3 linked regions of the Homo sapiens genome follow. The protein of the gene in region 3 interacts with the protein of the main gene of each other region in a pairwise test. Each region holds a gene or a part of one and is shown on either strand. Other genes may lie near its edges.

Region 1 (7,106 bases), on a different chromosome or scaffold from region 3:
TCATAGAAGTCTCACAAAGTGGGCACTGTTGTCACCCACACGTTACAGGTAAAGAGCTGAGGCTCAGAGAGGTTCTACCCCTCACCCAGGTCACACAGCACATCCTGGCAGAGATGGCATTCAGGCCTACCTGAGCCCATCCCTCAGCACAGCACCACCCTGACTGTGTGCAAGGCGCCCTGCCGGCTTTCAGCTCTGGGTCAGGATGCCGTTACGGAGGGCCATGCGCTGCGGCAGGACTCCATCTGGGCTCCGGCAGAAGCATCCCTTTCTGTGGTTTTAGGATATCGTGTGGGGACACTTCTGAGGCTGAACTGTAGACGCAGCTGCGGGCGCCTCTTAAGGGCCAAAAGACTCTTTTGTGCTTCTGCATGGATTGAGATTTTGGCAAGGAACACATAGTACTTTTGTTGAAAGGAAGAACCAGAAAGAGAAGTAGATGGCAGATTGAAAGCCTCTTCTTGAAAGGGCCTTTGATCGTGCCTGCCACAGGACACGTGTCCCCTCCCTGATGCAATGTAACCTCGTGGTTCATTCCTCTGATCTTGGAGCCTGACACTTTGCCTTGGGGAGTCCCTCCTGAGCCCTCCCTTCCCTGCACATGAGTGGAGAGAGCCGGGATCCTCTTCCCAGATGTGTGACATGAGGCTGGCTCTGGCTGCTACGTGACCCCTGCCTCCTGGGGATCAGAGCCTGGGCTGAGGGCTGCTTCTAACAACCAGGTCAGGGACTGCTGGGGCTGATTTGGGCTCGGAACCCAAGTCCTTCTCCAATGCCCAGCACCACCCGAGCACCCGCTAGCTGCTGGGGTCTGCTGCCACCACCACGTTCTGACCTCCCAGTGCACCCCCTGTGTGAGCACACAGATCTCAGTGGGGCTCACTGGGCGCCTCTGCCCGAGCCCCTGCTGCCTTGGCTTCCTGCTGTGCTGGTGGCCCAGTCACAGAGTGGTCAGGATAAAATGGTCATTGCTGGGATTTGAGACCCAGGCAGCCTGCAGGGGCAGCTTAGACTGAGTCATGACCAGGTCTGTGGGAAGGTGAGAGCAGGCAGTGAGGGTATGTGGGGGCTGGCACAGGGACTGAGGGAGCAGGGGGAGCCAGAGGAAGGGTAGAGCATGCAGGCAGTCTGGCCTGTGGGTAGCGTGGCTTGGGGCAGGACTCGGGTGAGTCCTCTTTTGGCATCACACTCCCTCATCCTTCCGCCACCCCCCTGCCCACCTCCACTGGTCTCATCTGTAGGGAGAAAGGTGGCTCGGGCTTAATGTGGTACTGCCTCTCTGTCCCTCCCGTGCTGAGCTTGCAGCAGAGGCAGGAGATTCAGAGCCGGAGCCGGGGAGTTGCATGGACCCAGGTGCATACCTGGCTCTGACACTTTCTAGCTGTGTGTCCTGGTAGGTGTCCTTTAGCCTCTCCAGTCCTCACTGTTATCCTCAGAAGAATGGGGTTAGGACAGACTGCCATGGGAGGCCGCTGTGGGGGTGAGCAACTCTTCTGCAGGGGGCGCCCATGAGGTCCTCCTAGATGGAGGCTGGCGCTCTCATCAGCCACAGGGCGCTGGAGACTGGTTCCTCCTGCCTCCAGGGGAGCCCTGTTGATGCAGCCCCTGGTTCTAGGACACCCAAGAGTTCCTTCGCTGCCTGATGGACCAGCTGCACGAGGAGCTCAAGGAGCCGGTGGTGGCCACGGTGGCGCTGACGGAGGCTCGGGACTCAGATTCGAGTGACACGGATGAGAAACGGGAGGGTGACCGGAGCCCATCAGAAGATGAGTTCTTGTCCTGTGACTCGAGCAGTGACCGGGGTGAGGGTGACGGGCAGGGGCGTGGCGGGGGCAGCTCGCAGGCCGAGACGGAGCTGCTGATCCCAGATGAGGCGGGCCGAGCCATCTCTGAGAAGGAGCGGATGAAGGACCGCAAGTTCTCCTGGGGCCAGCAGCGTACAAACTCGGAGCAAGTGGACGAGGACGCTGATGTGGACACTGCCATGGCTGCCCTTGACGACCAGCCCGCGGAGGCCCAGCCCCCGTCACCACGGTCCTCCAGCCCCTGCCGGACGCCAGGTATCAGCTGGCCGGGGACTGCGGGAGGAACCTCAGCCTATGGCCCAGTACCTACCGGGTGCTGAGCGCCGACCTGCAGTAGCCCCCGGGGGACGGGTTCTTCACTAGACCCGAATGACAGTGGGGAAGTCAGCCTCCGGGGGGGCTCAGTGATGTGCCCAGGGTCCCCTAGCTCATAATGCTGGAGCCCAATTCAGAGCCCTCTCCCAGAGCCCTGAGCCTTCCAGCCGGACATGGATTGGACAGGTCTGCTCCGGCCTGTGTGCTGGGGCCAGGAGTGGGCACATGACAGAGGAGACACATTAGGGTCAGGCTTTCGTCCCTTTAGGAGGGGCTGGCAGGTCATCTTCCTGCCCACTCGTGGAGCTGGCCTGGCTGCCCTGGCCCAGCATGGTACCCTCTCTGCCCCCAGAGCCGGACAATGATGCTCACCTACGCAGCTCCTCTCGCCCCTGCAGCCCCGTCCACCACCACGAGGGCCATGCCAAGCTGTCTAGCAGCCCCCCTCGTGCAAGCCCCGTGAGGATGGCACCGTCGTACGTGCTCAAGAAAGGTTCGGGGGGCACGGGAGGGTGGGTCAGCTTGAGGCTGGGAGTACAGATTACGCCCGTAGCTGCCTTTCTCATGGCCCCCTGTGGCGGAGGGCCGGGCTATGGGCTCCTCTCAGGTACACCCCTGAGACACCAGTGTGGGAGCCACGTTTTGCAGAGGATGACACAGAGGCATGAGATGGTGAATTGCTTACCCAGTCATGTGACTCACGGATGTCACTCCACATCCTGTCAAAGGAAGCCGCAGGGCCCGCACCTCGCCCCGGCCAGGCAGGTGGAGGCTGGGCTAGTCCTGTGCTGTGTCCCCAGCCCAGGTATTGAGTGCTGGCAGCCGGAGGCGGAAGGAGCAGCGCTACCGCAGCGTCATCTCAGACATCTTTGACGGCTCCATTCTCAGCCTTGTGCAGTGTCTCACCTGTGACCGGGTGGGTGCCCCAGGGATGGGGGGAGCTGGGCCAGGCTGCCAGTGGCCTCAGCAGCTCTTGCCCTGACTGGGTGCAGGGTGGGCTCTCCACGGGTGCTCCCTGCTTTTATCCAGGGGAGGGCCCTGCCTGCGTGGATCCCGTGTCTATGGCCTGGGGAGTAGTCCCTCTGCCCCTCACCTGCTGCTTGGGGTTTGGGGTGCAGACATTGCCAGAGGATGGGCAGCAGACTGACCTTCAACCCCACAGGTATCCACCACAGTGGAAACGTTCCAGGACTTATCACTGCCCATTCCTGGAAAGGAGGACCTGGCCAAGCTCCATTCAGCCATCTACCAGAATGTGCCGGCCAAGCCAGGCGCCTGTGGGGACAGCTATGCCGCCCAGGGCTGGCTGGCCTTCATTGTGGAGTACATCCGACGGTGCGCCCACCTTGCCACTACTGGGCGACATGGGCTGGGCCTGTCCTGGTTTTCCTGGGCGGGAGACAGTACACAGTGAAGTCCATGCATTTGGGGAACCAGGGAGGTCCTGGGAGGAGCTGGGGGCCGAAGCCTGCAGAGGAGTTGGCTTAATATGCAGGGGATTTCTTGGCTACTTTGAAGTGGCCAGGATTGGATAGTCCCTTGGAGCTGGAGGGCGATGGACAGCAGGGAGGTGACCACATGGCAGGTTGAAGGGAGGGCAGCAGCAGGACACAGGCCTGGTTGGCGGGAAGGGCAGCAGCTTTCCCAGGGCTGCCTCTCCTGCCTGAGGCCAGAGACCCGCATGACCCCAGGGAGGGGGTAGCATGATCATGGCCGCAACACAGATGAAGGAGGCCAGGCTTGCGGAGAGATGATGTCACTCGGCCCAGGACACGGACGTGTCTGGCTCCAGGCCTCTGCCCCGACCCGCCGTGCCCGGCTGCTTCTCTGGGCCTTCAGGGTCCTTCTGCGGCTCAGGCCTGACAGACCTCAGCCAGAGTCCCTTCAGCTCCTGTTCTTGCCCAGGCCCTGGCAGCACCCCTGCACTCCTTTTCTGTCTGTAGGTTTGTGGTATCCTGTACCCCCAGCTGGTTTTGGGGGCCTGTCGTCACCCTGGAAGACTGCCTTGCTGCCTTCTTTGCCGCTGATGAGTTAAAGGGTGAGGGGCCTGGCTGGCAAGGGTCGGGGAGGTGGAGGGTTGTGGGGACGGGGATGTGCAGACCCCAGCAGGCCAGCATGCAGCCCAGGGCTTGTGGGATGCACAGCCAGGCTAGACTTGGCTTCCAAGGTTGATCCCATCAGATACCCACGCCCACTGCCAGCCACGCTGGACCAGGGCCATGTGCTATCCCAACCCCATCATCTTGCAGCTCTTGAGTGTTCACTTATTTTTATTTTTACCAATTTGGTGGGCAAAAATGATGTATGTTAATTTTTCATTTCCTTGATTACTGATGAGTTTCTACATTTTTTGTTAAATATACTGGCTCTATGTATTTATTTAAACATTGCCCATTCCTGTTCTTGTTCTTTTTCTCCGTTGGCTATTTGGCATCTAAACCTTTGGGAAAACTCTCTCTTTTTTTTTTATTTCCAATTTTCAATTGCGATAAAATACACAAAATGTAAAATTTACCACCATAACCATTGTAAATGCTGTTTTTAACAGAAAGTGCACAGTCGAGTAGTGTTAAATACATGCACATGGTCACGCAGCCATCCTCCCCATTCATCTCCAGAACTTTTACATCTTGCAAACCTGAAACTCAGTATCCGTGAAACAGCTCCCTACTCCCACCTCCCAGCCCCTGGCAACCTCCACATTCAAGTCTGTGAATGTGACTACTCTAAAGGCCTCATAGAAGTGGAATTATACAGTACTTGCCATTTTGTGACTGACGGCTTTTACTGAGCATAACGTCCTTAGGGTTCATCCACGTTGCAGCGTGTGTGTCGGAATGCCCTGCCTTTTGTATGCTGGTTATTTATTGTTCCATTGTGTGGATGGCTGGGGCCTTTCTGCTTATTCGTTCATCCGTCAGTGGACACTCAGGCCGCTTCCCTGTTAGCTATTGTGAGGAATGCTGCTCTGACCATGGGTGTGCACACCTCTCTTCTTTCATCCCTTTGGGTCTATGCCTATTTTTAATTTCTCGAGGAGCCACCGTACTGGGTTCCACAGTGGCCACCCCATTTCACATTCCCACCAGTGACGCACAAGAGTTCCAGTTTCTCCACATCGTCGTCCACACTCATTTTGTTTACTTTTTTGATGGGAGTCAACCTCATGGGTATGAGGTGGTATCTCATTGTGCGTTTTTTTTGTTTTGTTTTGTTTTGTTTTTGAGACGGAGTCTCTCTCTTGACGCCCAGGCTGGAGTGCAATGGCATGATCTCGGCTTATTGCAACCTCCACCTCCTGGGTTTAAGCGATTCTCCTGCCTCAGCCTCCCGAGTAGCTGGGATTACAGGCACATGCCACCACGGCTGGCTAATTTTTGTATTTTTAGTAGAATGGGGTTTCACCATGTTGGCCAGGCTGGTCTTGAACTCCTGACCTCAGGTGATCCGCCTGCCTTGGTCTCCCAAAGTGCTGGGATTACCGGCGTGAGCCACCGCACCCAGCCTCGTTGTGGTTTTGATTTGCATTTCCTAATGATAGTGATGTTAAGTGTCTTTTCATATGCTTGTTGGCCATTTGTAAGTGTTTGGAAAAACATCTATGTGAGTCTTTTGCCTATTTTGTTTTTTGTTGCTTGTTATAGGGATTCTTTTTTTTCTTGAGACAGAGTCTCACTCTGTCACCCAGGCTGGAGTGCAATGGCATGATCTTGGCTCACTGCAGCCTCCGCCTCCTGGGTGCAAGCAGTCCTCCCATCTCAGCCTCCCGAGTAGCTGGGATTATAGGCACGTGCCACCACACCTGGCTAATTTTTGTATTGTTAGTAGAGATGGGGTTTTGCCATGTTGGCCAGGTTGGTCTCGAACTCCTGACCTCAAATGGATTTGCTGCCTTGGCCTCCCAAAGTGCTGGGATTACAGGTGTGAGCCACGGTGCCGGCCTCGTTAGTTAGAGGAGTTCTTTATGTGTCCAGATACGTGACTTATAACCCTGTCCTCCCATCCTGTAGGGTGCGTTTCATTCTGTGGTTTGTGTCTTTTGCTTTGGTTGCCTGCACCTTTGGTGTTGTGTTTCAGAGATCATCGCCAGATCCAATGTCATGAAACTTTTTTCCTACTTTTCTCCTAAAAGTTTTATAGTTTTAGGTCTTATATTGAGATCTTTGATCCCATTTTGACTTAATTTTCACAGTGTGCATGGAGGGGGAAACTATACATTAAGATTTTAAGCTGGTCATGGTGGCATGTACCTGTGACCCCAGCTACTCCGGAGGCTGAGGGTCCTCTGAGCCTAGGACTTTGGGACCAGCCTGGGCAACATAGCAAGACCCTATCTCAAAAAAATTGTTTCAAATACATTTTCTGTAATTAATGTTGCACTTCCCACCCCACCTCCATTTTGCCTTTTGCCTTTTAATTTTGCTTTTGGTGGTATCTTACAGATGTTGAAGTATTTCTGGGGTCAAATATAACCATTTCTCCCTTGTATGGATTCTGGCTGTGGGGCCCAGCCAGGGCCTTCCCTCCCTCCAGTACCTCTCAGGTTTTATTTCTTTTTCTTTTTCTTCTTCTTTTTTTTTTTTTTTTTTTGAGATGGAGTTTTACTCTGTCACCCAGGCTGGAGTGCAGTGGCATCAGCTCACTGCAGCCTCTGCCCCGAGCCCCCCAGGTTCGAGCGATTCTCCCACCTCAGCCTCCTGAGTAGCTGGGATTACAGGCACGCACCACCACGTCCAGCTAATTTTTGTATTTTTAGTAGAGATGGGGTTTCGCCATGTTGGCCAGGCTGGCCTCGAACTCCTGACCTCAGGGGATCCGCCCGCCTCGGCCTCCCAAAGTGCTAGGATTACACGCATGAGCCACCATGCCCAGCCAGGTTTTATTTCTTAAGCAGAAATCATTATAGTCACTTTTTTTTGCTCCCTCATTTTGCATCCTTGCTAACCTCTGACCCTTTGTTTTACTGCCCTAGGTGACAACATGTAC
Region 2 (6,328 bases), about 150 Mb from region 3:
CAGGAGCCCTGGCCTTGCAATGAAGAGGGCAGGCAGGGAGGCAGACACAGAGAATGCACTTCTTGTGTCCTAAAGAGGAAATTTGTGGCTTGACTCCCCCATTCACCCCCCCACCCAAAAAAAAAAAAAACCTTTCCCCATCAATGGCCAGGTCTGAACAGCTGCTGGAGTGGCAGAGGGGACACTGACAAAATGTCAGTGGGACTTGCCTTAGGGATCATCTGGGCCAGTCTTTAATATTACATATGAGGAACAGGCTTCCTCAGGAAAGGAAGTGACTTGTCCAAAGTCATGTAGCTAGTAGTAGCTTGGTTCCCTCAGGGTGATTTGAGGGAGGGAGGCAGACCTGTCCCCAAGTAGTTTTCTTAACAGAGGCCATCTGTATAGTGGAATCTGACCCCAGGCTAGGCCAAGGCCAGAACATTTATCGAATCCCTACTGCATATCAGGCATTGTGCCATATTTGGTCTCATTTAACCCTCACCACAACCCTAGGAGTCAGGTGGAATTATCCTATGTTACAGATGAGGAAGGCGGCTCAGAGATTAAATCACTTGTTTAAGGTCATGGAGCTAACTGGTGGCAGAGACAGGATTCAAACTCAAGCCTGGCTGACTCCAGAGCCCAGTTCTTTCCAAGCCCCAGCACTGTCTCCAGTTGCTCCAGACCCACAAAATGTCAGGGCTGAAGGTCTGAGCCATTGGGGCCACTACTTCCACCCCCTCCTTGCACAGCTGAGGAAATGGAAGCACAGAGAGAAATGACTTTCCCAAGGTCATTCAGCAAGACAGTAGCAGAGCCAGGATTTAAAGCAGGTCTCACCCCCTTCCAGGCCCCAACCCCTGCCGACACCTCTGCCAGCCTTGGTGCTCTGCACCCACCTCCTGGCTGCTCTGCACCCACCTCCTGTGGCTGGGCCTTGGAGGGTAAAGGATAGAGAGCAGGACCAAGGCCTTCTGGAGACGGGGCTCTCCTGGAATAGGGAGGGAGGGGTGGCAGTAGCTGAGGGGGAGGTGGGGGGTGGGACTGGAACTTGGCCTATTGGCAGTGGGGGAGGGGGCGGGGGCGATGCTTATCTGTGCGGGGCAGGAAGCACCCGCGCCAGCCAGTGACACCCCAGCAAAGGGTGGCTGCTCCTTGGCCCCATGGGGGAGGGGAGGATGTGGGGGGAGGGATGCTGGGAGCTGTGTTTCCCGTTTGGCCTGGAGAAGTGGGGGATCTAGAAGGGGAGATGAACTTTTGGTAGCCAGGGGAGGGGCAAGAGGAGGAAGAGGATGATGCTTGGAAGCTGCCTTCTCTTGTTTGCATATGTTTTACAGTGTCCTAACCGCTTTGGAGAGCGATAACTTGAGTTAAAGCACCTGTCTGTGCCTGGCCTCCAGCAGATCTTGGTCCAGTGTGAGTCTGAACTCTCTCATTGGCCTCTCCCCAGGTTATGAGGAGGTTCATTACAAAGACTGTTACCTCACTTTTCAAATGACTGAGGCCAGCTGCCAGTACCACCCCCGGTCCTTCAGCCAATTCTTTATGAAGCCTGAACCGGGACCCAGGCATCCTATCTCCCAGTCCACTGCTCCTTCCAAAGAGATGGGGAATGGGGCAGGTGACATAGATGGACCTCCATGAAAGGGCCAGAAAGGCAGGGCTCCTGCTGCCACAGAGGCAGAGTAGAATAGTATAGTGGTTAGGAACAAGGACCGGGCCCACTCCCTGAGTTTGAACACTGTTCTGCACTTAACTTGGAAAATCACTTCACCTGTCTGAACCTCAGTTTCCTTGTCTGTGAAACAGATGATGATCATACTTCAGAGGGTTCTGGAAGATGAAATGAGTGTAAAGTACTCAGAAGGGTGACTGGCATGCAGTCATCCCTCAATAAGTATTGGCTAAAGTTGGTCCTCTTTCCCCAGACCCCTGTGGGCTGAGCGCTCTTAATCTCCCCTCTACTTGACTCTGCAGGAGAAGATGGGGAGCCCCGAGGATGACCTGATTGGGATTCCATTCCCGGACCACAGCAGTGAGCTCCTGAGCTGCCTCAATGAGCAGCGCCAGCTGGGCCACCTATGTGACCTCACCATCCGGACGCAGGGCCTTGAATACCGCACCCACAGGGCTGTGCTAGCTGCCTGTAGCCACTACTTCAAGAAGCTTTTCACTGAGGGCGGTGGCGGAGCTGTCATGGGGGCCGGGGGTAGCGGGACGGCCACTGGGGGAGCAGGGGCCGGTGTGTGTGAGCTGGACTTTGTAGGGCCAGAGGCACTAGGCGCCCTCCTTGAATTTGCCTATACAGCCACACTGACCACCAGCAGCGCCAACATGCCAGCTGTGCTCCAGGCTGCCCGCCTGCTGGAGATCCCGTGTGTCATCGCTGCTTGCATGGAGATTCTGCAGGGCAGTGGGCTAGAAGCTCCCAGCCCGGACGAGGATGACTGTGAGCGAGCCCGCCAGTATCTGGAGGCCTTTGCCACAGCCACGGCCTCTGGAGTTCCCAATGGTGAAGACAGTCCTCCACAGGTGCCCCTCCCACCACCTCCGCCACCGCCACCTCGGCCTGTTGCCCGCCGCAGCCGCAAGCCCCGGAAAGCTTTCCTGCAAACCAAGGGGGCCAGAGCAAACCACCTAGTCCCTGAGGTGCCCACAGTGCCCGCCCATCCCTTGACCTATGAGGAGGAGGAGGTGGCGGGCAGAGTGGGCAGCAGTGGGGGCAGTGGGCCGGGGGACAGCTACAGCCCTCCCACAGGAACTGCCTCCCCTCCTGAGGGTCCCCAGAGCTACGAACCCTATGAGGGTGAGGAAGAAGAAGAGGAGCTGGTATATCCCCCAGCCTATGGGCTGGCGCAGGGTGGCGGGCCCCCGCTGTCCCCAGAGGAGCTGGGCTCAGATGAGGATGCCATCGATCCTGACCTGATGGCCTACCTAAGCTCCCTGCACCAGGACAACCTGGCACCAGGCCTGGACAGCCAAGACAAGCTGGTGCGCAAACGCCGCTCCCAGATGCCTCAGGAGTGCCCTGTCTGCCACAAGATCATCCATGGGGCAGGCAAACTGCCTCGCCACATGAGGACCCACACAGGCGAGAAGCCCTTTGCCTGCGAGGTCTGCGGTGTTCGATTCACCAGGTGAGCAGCAAGGGGGGAAGGGCCCGGCAGGGGCCATGGGTAGGGGACAGGGTGGGAGGAGATGGGGAAGAAGTTAGGAGACCCGAGGTGGTGGTAGGTGGTCCTGGAGGGACTGGGGCATGGGTGGGTTACTGGAGTGAGGAGAGCAGAAGAAAACAAGCCAGCAGGGGGTGGATCTGGAGCATGGAGGATTCGGTGCCCAGGAGGGCAGTGCTGGAAGCAGAGGAGTGGATAATGACAAGGCCTAGTTAAGCTAGAGGTGAGCTAGCAGGGTATCTCCTGGGGCAATAGTGGGGTAACAAATGGTGAGGAACAGGGATGGGACAAGGCCAGGGTGGGATGACCAGGAGGAGCCAGGGATCCCATCCTGAACACCTCCCTGCCCCTCACCCCTGCCTGTGCCAGGAACGACAAGCTGAAGATCCACATGCGGAAGCACACGGGAGAGCGCCCCTACTCATGCCCGCACTGCCCAGCCCGCTTCCTGCACAGCTACGACCTCAAGAACCACATGCACCTGCACACAGGGGACCGGCCCTATGAGTGCCACCTGTGCCACAAGGCTTTCGCCAAGGAGGACCACCTGCAGCGCCACCTCAAAGGCCAGAACTGCCTGGAGGTGCGCACCCGACGGCGCCGCAAGGACGATGCACCACCCCACTACCCACCACCCTCTACCGCTGCTGCATCCCCCGCTGGCCTCGACCTCTCCAATGGCCACCTGGACACCTTCCGCCTCTCTCTAGCTCGATTCTGGGAGCAGTCAGCCCCCACTGGGCCCCCGGTCTCTACCCCAGGGCCCCCTGATGACGATGAGGAGGAAGGGGCACCCACCACACCCCAGGCTGAAGGTGCCATGGAGTCCTCTTAAAGAGGGACGAGGGCCAGACTGAAGCAGCACAAGGCCGGGGACACCCATGCCAAGCAGTGGGAGCACGCAGGACAGACACAGCAGGGGTCTGGGGCACGGAGCCTTGCTGGCATCAGCATCAGCCCTTCCTCCCAGAGCCCTCATTCCAATTCCAAGCTAAGAAGGTATTGGGGCAGAGGCTCCCCAAATTGGGGTGATCCCCCAAGGAGTGATACATATATTGTGTATATATTTACAGCTGTATTGTAAAAGTGGGGTCCCTGTCCCCAGCTGCTCCTGGGGAGTAGAAGCAATAATGTATTTCTAATTTGTGGGTCCCACTTCGGCTATGCGGGTTTCTAGGGGGTGGGGGCTTGGGACCAAAGCCTTGCCCCGCCCCTATGCCCCTTGGGGGTTTTGGCTGTGTAAGGGGGTGAAGGACTGCCCCTCCCTTTCGAGACCCCTCCTTCCTGGTTTCTGTTCCTTTTTCCTGGCAGTGAATTATGCAAAGGGGGCCGGCAAAGGAAGGGTAGGTGGGGGAAAGCCAGGTGGAAGCTTGAAAGACTGGGGGACTGGGCCTGTAAGGAAGGAGCCATCCCAGTCCCCCTCCGCCCTGCTCCCGGCGCTGAGTCATGGGGTCGTGGAGAAGGGGGCGGGGTGGCCTGATTGGCTCGCCTGCCCCTGGGGGCAGTAGAGGGGCCCCGCCCAGCTAGGGGAGCCGCTCCGTTCCACTCCCCTCCCTAGCCCTCCCTCCCCACGGCCCTGGGCAGGGAATGTCTTGTTCCCGCCGCTCCCTCCCCGGGGCCAGAGGGCAGGGCGGGCCGGGCGGCGTCCTACCCTCTTCTCCTCCTCCCCATCTCCTCCCCGCCCAGGTGCGAGCCGGAGCCGCCGCCACCGCTGCCGCCCCTGACTCACGCCGCCCCCGGGCTGGCGCAGCGAAGGGTGTGGGACAGGGTAAGGGGTTGGAAGAGCCTTGTGGAGAGCGGGCGAGCCGGCGCCATCTGGCGGCCATGCTCTGAGTGGGCGAGCGCCCCCCGCGGCCACTGGAGCGAGCTGTCTTCACGCTCCTCATCCACCCCAGCTGGTGAGCGGCGCCCCCTTGCCAAGGCAGTGGGCACAGAACTTCTCGCTTGGCCGCAGGGGAAGGGGCTGCGGACCTGTGGGAAAGTGATCCCCTTCCCAGATCCTTGCCAGCCGGGCTTCCTGTCAGGCAGGGGAGAATAATCCCCACTCTGCTCTTAGGATTGAATCCACCCCCATTCTGTACATAGCCTCTTCTGTTGGTCTTGTTGAAATCTAGTTTCAGATTTTTAACTACCCAATTCTGCTGGGGGTGGGGGACACCCCCCCTTCCTCGCTGGGTGCTGGACCCCTTTTGCAGCCTGGGCTCTGCCTTGCACTATTTCCCCTTCCTGGCCTGACGGCTCCTCCCCCTCCTTAAAAGGGGCAGGTTCAGGGGCCCGGTGCTCTTCCTCCCTTCCATGCACCCCCATGCCCATTTGCACAGCTGCCCAGGTACCCCTAACAGTGGGGAGGGGTCACAGGGAGGGGGTAGCGGGACCAGTCCCTGTTATCTATTTAAAAAGTGATGATGTAATATATTGGGGTGGCGGGGAGATCGGGTTGTCCTGGGCCTCATCTTAGCATTTCAGGTGATGGGGGGAGCCCAGGGCTGGGGAGACCTGGGGCCCAGCCCCAGAAAGTGGGGACAATGTGGCCTCCCTTCTCCCTACTTTCGGCTTTCCCAGTCAGTGCCTTAGGGGGAGAGGCACTCCCCCCCTCCTATTCCCTTCCCCCCACCCCAACTCCCCCACCTCGGGTGTAAGCGACAGGAAGAAATAATAATAATTTAAGATTCACACTTGTGTCCACTTTTGGTTTATTTGGGGGGTGGGTGGGAAGGATCAGGAAGAGAGGGAGGTGAGAGAGGGACTGAGGGTTCTGAAGCTGGAGTGGGGGCTCCTTTAGTGGCGGAGGATGTCTCAGGTGGTCTGTGGGGCTCAGGGCTGGTGAGAATGCTGACAGGCTGATGGGCTTCAGGTAAGGGCTGCTGCCCGTGCTTCCTCTGCTGAGGCCCCTTCTCCTCATCCAGGTCACTAGTGAGGAGAGGAAGGGGGTGGCCGGATCACCCACCTTCTGTCTTCACAGGTGCATCCCTGCCCCCTGCCCTGCCCCATCTGTTCAGATCCAGCTCCTGTTCTTTCTGAGCAACTCCTGCTCTCTCAGGCCCACGAGGCGTACCAGCCCATGGCTGTAGATATTTTCTGATTTTAGGCTGATGCTGGGGGGTGGGCAGTGACTTGCCTGAGGCCACATGGCTAGGAAGGGCAGAATCACTAGTGACCTCAGTAGTCACACC
Region 3 (7,106 bases):
TGGTGCATGCCTGTAATACCAGCTACTTGGGAGGCTGAGGCAGGAGAATTGCTTGAACCTGGGAGGTGGAGGTTATAGTGAGCCAAGAGCGCGCCACTGCACTCCAGCCTGGGCAACAGAGTGAGACTCCATCTCAAAAAAAGAAAAAACATGGCCTCATCGGCCTCCCAAAGTGCTGGGGTTACAGGTGTGAGCCACTGCACCCAGCCCTTTTTTTTTTTTTTTTTTTCTGAGACGGACTCTCACTGTGTCTCACCGTGTCACCCAGGCTGGAGTGCAGTGATGCGATCTCGGCTCACTGAAACCTCCGCCTCCTGGGTTCAAGTGAATCTCCTGCCTCAGCCTCCTGAGTAGCTGGGATTACAAGCACCCGCCACCACGCCCGGCTAATTTTTGCATTTTTTTAGTAGAGACAGGGTTTCACCATGTTGGTCAGACTGGTCTTGAACTCCTGAGCTCAGGCAGTCTGCCTGCCTCGCCTCCCAAAGTGCTGGGATTACAGGCAGAGCCACTGCACCTGGCCCATCTGTATTTAAATAATTGTGCTTTCATTGGTTCTGTGGTTATTGAACTGTGAATATGTACCTTCCTATCGTGAGTCACATAAAGTGCTTTAGCATTTGTGCCACGAGATCCTAAAACTTGCTATGTTCGGTCTATGCTTGTGCACCAGAAGCTGTTGATCTATAAGGAAAAGCAGGGAGGGATCGTTGGGAAGGGATGAGGAGGTTGGCACTGGGCTGTGGGGAGCGGTGTGCAGTTTTGTTCATCAGAGGATGTGGACTTCATAGCGATGTTGTGTTGTGGGGTTTGTGTTAGGTGCTCATAGTTGGAGGTAACGACGGGATCTCAGAAGCCTTGCTCTGCTTGACTGTGGTGCAGACCCTGTGCTCTCTCTCTGGCAGGAAGCCCGTGCCTCTACTACTGGATCAAGATTATGTTAATTTAAAGAACCAAATTATAAAGGCGGAAAGACGAGTTCTCAAAGAGTTGGGTTTCTGCGTCCATGTGAAGCATCCTCATAAGGTGGGTGTGCGGCTCCTGCCCTGCGAGCCCGCCTAGGCCGCTGCTCCTGCCTGGCCGCCTCTCTCCACCTCAGTGCAGTTGAAGGCTCTGAAGAGGACTGAGTGCATCCCTGACTTGGCTTTCCAGTTTCTATTTATAATCTCAAGAATAGTTCCTGACGTATTCGTCTTCTAGTGTCAGCTGTTTATTTTAGTAACACATTTTTAAGTGTTTTGGAAATGGTATTATTTAAGTTTGGGCTTTCAAAAATAGTGGTGAGTTTATAAATGTTGAATTTTAGTTTATGTTTTCCTTTCTCTACAGTTAATTTTTTTTTGTTTTCTTTTTTTTTGAGATGGAGTTTCGCTCTATCGCCAGGCTGGAGTGCAGTGGCATGGTGGCAGTGGCAGTGGAGGCACAACCTCCACCTCCCGGCTTCAAGCCATTCTCCTGCCTCAGCCTCCTGAGTAGCTGGCACTACAGGCACGTGCCACCACGCCGAGCTGATTTTTGTATTTTTAGTAGAGACGGGGTTTCACCATGTTGGCCAGAATGGTCTTCATCTCTTGCCCTCGTGATCCTCCCACCTTGGCCTCCCAAAGTGCTGGGATTACAGGCATAAGCCACTGTGCCTGGCCTTTTTTTTTTTTTTTTTTTTTTTTCTTGAGACGGAGTCTTACTCTGTCATGCAGGCTGGAGTGCAGTGGTGCAATCTTGGCTCACTGCAACCTCTGCCTCCCAGGTTCAAGTGATTCTTGTGCCTCAGCCTCCCAAGTAGCTGGGATTACAGGCATGCGCCACCACACCTGGGTAATTTTTGTATCTTTAGTAGAGATGGGGTTTCGTCATGTTGGCCGGGCTGGTCTCAAACTCCTGATCTCAGGTGATGCACCTGCCTCGGCCTCCCAAAGTTCTGGGATTACAAGTGTGAGCCACTGCACCCAGCCTCAACAGTTAATTTTCTACATTTGCTTTAGTGATAGCTTTACTTTCTCTTATGGAGAAATTAGGGGAATTCTGGCCCCTTTAGTCTGAAATGACTGGCGAGTTTTGCGGCATGTACTGACTGAGGACCATGGCCGTGACACGGTCCCTCACTCCCAGCGTTGTGGGTGCCTTCTGTGTCACATGGAAACAAAGCACTTGTTTTCCCAAAAAATTGTTTCCATCTTTGGTTCCATCTCCTTTTTATTGGTGGGTTTCCTCATCTGCTTGTTCGGCTTTCTGCCATCTGTTCAAATTATCCACAAATTGCCCACCACAGATTGAAGTGCTTTTTTTTTTTTTTTGGAGACGGAATCTCGCTCTGTTGTCCAGGCTGGAGTGCAATGGCGCAACCTCAGCTCATGCAGCCTCCGCCTCCTGGTTTCAAGCGATTCTCCTGCCTCAGCCTCCTGAGTACCTGGGATTACAGGCGTGCACCACCATGCCTGACTAATTTTGTATTTTTAGTAGAGACTGGGTTTCTCCATATTGGTCAGGCTGTTCTCGAACTCCTGACCTCAGGTGATCTGCCCGCCTCAGCCTCCCAAAGTGCTGGGATTATAGGCATGAGCCAGTGTGCCTGGCCTGAAGTGTTCTTCTCTGTTTGCTGAAAGTATGTTCATATTGTGTTTTGGTGAGTTGTTAACTGGGATACAGAGACGTGTAGGACAGGCCAACCTCACTGGTGGAAAGGCATTGAAGACTAGAATGAAACCAGCCCCATGAAGAACGAGGCCTGTGCCGTGGGTTGTGTGGCTGGGCTCACGGGCATGCGTCCTGCCTGGCTGCCAAGGCAGACAGCAGGTGCAATCGCAAAGCTCCCTCCAGCTGAGCCGTCCGCCAGACGTGTGGCCAGGAGCCACTCCTGGGATCTAGCTTGAGGCTCTTGTTTGCTGCATGGACACCCACAAGATCTGAATTCTGGGCTCTTAAGGTTCTTGGTAATAACTGCCTGACCCGTATCTTCCAGATAATCGTTATGTACCTTCAGGTGTTAGAGTGTGAGCGTAACCAACACCTGGTCCAGACCTCATGGTGAGTTGAGCTTCCTTGTTTTATGAGACCAGCAAGGGCAGTGCAGGAATGTGTTGACTTGAGGCACTTGGGCAGTGGGTAGGCAGCCCAGTGACTTGGTTGTGGGCTGGAGTTGTCCGAGTGCCCAGTGCTCCTGCTGTATAAATTCCAATCAGACTCCCAAAATGGGCACTGGCAGTCACGGTAGGTGGCCCGTCCCCTCCCTGCAAGCCTGGACTTCCTGTGTCCCCCACCCTGAAGAGAGCAGTCAGTGGGCTTCCTCTGGGAGCTGTTGACTTGGCGCAGGGGGACCTTTTCCTGGGGAGGGTGGAGGGACAGGCTAGTGCAGACTTGGTCTGTTTCTCCACTGACATTGCATCCCATGGGAGAGGGGCAGAGAAGGTTCTGGGGCCGATTTTAGCAATGCATGTGCTAGAAAGGAACCCTAAAGTGCAATGTAGTATTTGGGGGATTCTGGGGATTCTGGTGAATTTTTTCCCATGGAGTTAAGTCTGTAAGGGTCATATTTTTGCTGACTGAATTGTCTGGTGCTATGACATGTTTAATAGAGAACCTATTTTGACTTTTCTTTTCTGTACTCTTTCAATCAAAGGGTAGCCTCTGAGGGTAAGTGACTAAGACTTCTCCTCTGCTGTCCAAGCGCTTTGGTGCAGGGACAGCGGCATCTTCAGCCAATCCAGTGCAGGCTCTCCACCGAAGGCTGGCTCTAGACTGGTGGTACGCACATAGCATAGCCATGGCCGACTCCTGCTGTGGTTCTCTGACGATTGTGCTTCTTGTTAATCCTCTGTCGTGCTTTGGTAATCGTATTGATTAGAGTTGGTAACTGTCTTGACTTGAATTTTGTCCCTTTAAAACTGCTGTACCTGTATGATAAAGATGCAGTACCTTTCTCTTAAAAAAAAATGCTATGGAAAGCTGTGAGAATTGAAGAGACAAATTGGCTGTGTCAGTGTGGGGTTATGTCATGATTTCTAGAAGCCCTGAAGTTGCTCTTTTGAGCAGCTTTGCATGACACGCTCTGGTAAAAGGTGTGCATCTTTAAATTATTTCATGGATACTTTGAAAAATATTGTATCACTTCAAATACAGCAATAAGTTTATATGTTCTCAAGATTTCATTTGTTTTTAAGAATTTTAAGTTCGTGGATTAATATCACTACTTGAATACTGACAGTTGTTGATTAGACACCGAAAGGTTACTGATTGTTGAATGTATCTGTGTTAGAGCTGTGCACTGGCACGCTTGCATCAGGGGCTGGGGCCACACGGCCGCCACACAGATTCCCCCGTGATGCCTGGAGCTGCTTCCAGAGCCGGGTGTCTCCAAGAGGCACCTGTAGGACTTCCCATTTAGAAATCTCTTGAGTGGGTTTGTATGTTACCTTCTCCAAGGTTTATTTAGGACAGAGATATTGCTGGAAGGTCATGGGTCAGATTCCCTCACAACCCACCTCGTCTGCGGGTGCAGCCCCACTCCAAGGCTCCCCGTTATTGGGGTATGTGAGGAGCAGTAAATATAAAACCAGTTCAACTGTCCTCATGGAATCACCCTTTCTGTTTTTGCAGTATTCATAAAGCTAGTGTAAGGTCTGGTTTTAGTCTATTAAATCTTAGAGATCTAAAGGAAATGCTCAAAATGTAGCCAGGTTTTAAATGCTTTAACTTTTAAAAAATGTAAATTTTTGTATGTTTATAGCTTCTAAATATGAAAGTTAAAGAATGTACTGTGATGAAATGTTCAGTATTATGTTGCTTCTCAGTATCATGTTGCTTCTCAGTATTGTGTTGCTTCTGATTCTATGAATGTTCATTTTAAGACCCCTTGTTGAAATGGGACAGTTGGCAGCGGCTCTGATGAGCCCGAGAAGAGGCCTGCCCTTGGGTGCGGAGTCTCCCTCCGCACGATGCTCCCACGCGTCCAACTTGCACCCAAGGGGCTTTTCCCTCTTCCAAGTGGACTCCTTCAAGGAAGCTGCAGCTCGGTCAGCAGAGAAGGGGCCTGCCGCCAGCGCCCTGGAGGAAGAGGAAGAGGAACCCAAGAGGATGGCTTGTCTCCCAGCAGCCACACCGGCTTTGTGCTCAGCCAGTTCATTTGAGTTTGCATGTTTCTCTGCACTATGGATTTTGAGCATTTAGATTTCTTTAATCAAAAGCGTTTTAGTGACTCCAGTAGACATTTTCTTTCTGAGGCATCGTGCTTTGCATGAGAGCAGGCCAAGGTTGAGGGGAAAAGTAAAGTTAAAGTCGGTTCTCTTTCATAGCAACACGTATTGTCTGACATTCAGCCAGCTTTTTTTTTTTCTAATAATTTCTGTGCCTTTCTGTCCTGTATTTACTGTATTTAGAAAAAGCAGCTAGAATATTTCTCCATTAACTCTTGAGATTCACAGGACTGTCTAGCTCTGAGTCCTAGCAATAGACTCCTTAGAGGAGTAGTACGTTTATCTAGATTTTCTCTAGATAATGCAGGCGGAAGACCTGGGTTCCCGGGTGGGGCATTGCAGTTCTTCCTGTGTTTGGCTTCCAGGAATTACATGAACGACAGCCTTCGCACCGACGTCTTCGTGCGGTTCCAGCCAGAGAGCATCGCCTGTGCCTGCATTTATCTTGCTGCCCGGACGCTGGAGGTCAGTGTGTTGCTACTATGGAGAGATTCTAGTCTGATTTTTTTTTCTCCAGCCTCCAGTAAACTTTACTGTGTTATTCTTCAAATTACTCTAATCTGGGCCAAAGCATTTTCGTGACCAACAGGCTGTTTTTTAATTGTCCTGAGTCTTGCTGGCCGTGAAGTTGAGGAAAGTGTAATGATGATAGTGTTTGTTTTTACAGATCCCTTTGCCCAATCGTCCCCATTGGTTTCTTTTGTTTGGAGCAACTGAAGAAGAAATTCAGGAAATCTGCTTAAAGATCTTGCAGCTTTATGCTCGGAAAAAGGTTCTTCGGCATTTTTTCATGTAACGTATGCGTTTGTGTTTGGCCAGAAACACCTGGTTCTGAACGGACACCTTCTGGCTTTTGCAGGTTGATCTCACACACCTGGAGGGTGAAGTGGAAAAAAGAAAGCACGCTATCGAAGAGGCAAAGGCCCAAGCCCGGGGCCTGTTGCCTGGGGGCACACAGGTGCTGGATGGTACCTCGGGGTTCTCTCCTGCCCCCAAGCTGGGTGAGTCTGTTAGAGTGCAGGAATCCACTCCCCACAAAGGCAAAGACTGGTGACTCTCCCCCGCCTCCATTCTGGGGTATGTGCTCCTTCCAGACATTTTTTTTTTTTTTTTTTTTGAGACAGGGTCTCTGTCACCCAGGCTGGAGTATGGTGGTGTGATCGCAGCTCACTGCAGCTTCCAACTCCTGGATTCAAGTGATCCTCCCACCTCAGCTTTCTGCATAGCTAGGACTACAGGCACATGCCACCATGCTTGGCTAATTCTTTTTGTTTGAGACAGAGTCTTGCTCCAGCCCAGGCTGGAGTGCAGTGGCGCAATTTCCTCTCACTGCAAGCTCCGCCTCCTGAGTTCACACCATTCTCCTGCCTCAGCCTCCTGAGTAGCTGGGACTGCAGGTGGCCGCCACCACGCCTGGCTAATTTTTTGAATTTTTAGTAGAGACGGGGTTTCACCAGGTTAGCCAGGATGGTCTCGATCTCCTGACCTCGTGATCTGCCCACCTCAGCCTCCCAAAGTGCTGGGATTACAGGCGTGAGCCACCGTGCCCAGCTGTGCTTAGCTAATTCTTTATCTTTTTAGTTGAGTCTGGGTCTTGCTATGTTGGCCGGGCTGCTCTTGAATTTCCTGGCCTCAAGTGATTGTCCTGCCTCAGCGTCCCAGAGTGCTAGGAGCATAGGCACCTGGCCTTTCTGTTGATTAGCAGGGAGTATGACAGGTTGTCTGAAATGCTTTTGTTTATCCTGCTGCCCAGGTAGCTTGTCATCTGATGAAGGTGTTATAGTGTGGGGCCATAGATGATACACGTCATCAGACCTAGAGTTCAGTGTGATGCAAAGGGCCTGTCTGCAGTTCTTTTTTTTGAGATGGAGTCTCGCTCTGTCGTCCAGGCTGGAGTGCAGTGGTGCGATCTCAGCT

What was found.
Region 1: the proteins of CCNL2 (region 3) and USP20 interact in binary tests that used the Homo sapiens proteins (3 or more experiments, as listed by UniProt).
Region 2: the proteins of CCNL2 (region 3) and ZBTB7B interact in binary tests that used the Homo sapiens proteins (3 or more experiments, as listed by UniProt).

What each region holds. Positions count from the first base shown.
Region 1 is NC_000009.12:129,866,390-129,873,495, forward strand, and holds part of USP20 (ubiquitin carboxyl-terminal hydrolase 20), read left to right. Parts: intron 1-1,615; coding exon 1,616-2,060; intron 2,061-2,472; coding exon 2,473-2,613; intron 2,614-2,920; coding exon 2,921-3,036; intron 3,037-3,215; exon of another isoform or gene 3,216-3,282; coding exon 3,283-3,455; intron 3,456-4,063; coding exon 4,064-4,158; intron 4,159-7,092; coding exon 7,093-7,106.
Region 2 is NC_000001.11:155,012,696-155,019,023, forward strand, and holds the end of ZBTB7B (zinc finger and BTB domain-containing protein 7B), read left to right. Parts: intron 1-1,319; exon of another isoform or gene 1,320-1,398; intron 1,399-1,910; exon of another isoform or gene 1,911-1,959; coding exon of another isoform or gene 1,960-1,965; coding exon 1,966-3,119; intron 3,120-3,524; coding exon 3,525-3,990; 3' UTR 3,991-5,828; downstream 5,829-6,328. Other genes in the region: DCST2 (DC-STAMP domain-containing protein 2), read right to left, coding at 5,849-6,065. UniProt on the Homo sapiens protein: Transcription regulator that acts as a key regulator of lineage commitment of immature T-cell precursors. Exerts distinct biological functions in the mammary epithelial cells and T cells in a tissue-specific manner.
Region 3 is NC_000001.11:1,389,314-1,396,419, reverse strand, and holds part of CCNL2 (cyclin-L2), read left to right. Parts: intron 1-882; coding exon of another isoform or gene 883-905; coding exon 906-1,026; intron 1,027-2,959; coding exon 2,960-3,024; intron 3,025-3,615; exon of another isoform or gene 3,616-3,616; coding exon of another isoform or gene 3,617-3,638; exon of another isoform or gene 3,639-4,830; coding exon of another isoform or gene 4,831-5,123; exon of another isoform or gene 5,124-5,554; coding exon 5,555-5,654; intron 5,655-5,856; coding exon 5,857-5,961; intron 5,962-6,048; coding exon 6,049-6,190; intron 6,191-7,106. UniProt on the Homo sapiens protein: Involved in pre-mRNA splicing. May induce cell death, possibly by acting on the transcription and RNA processing of apoptosis-related factors.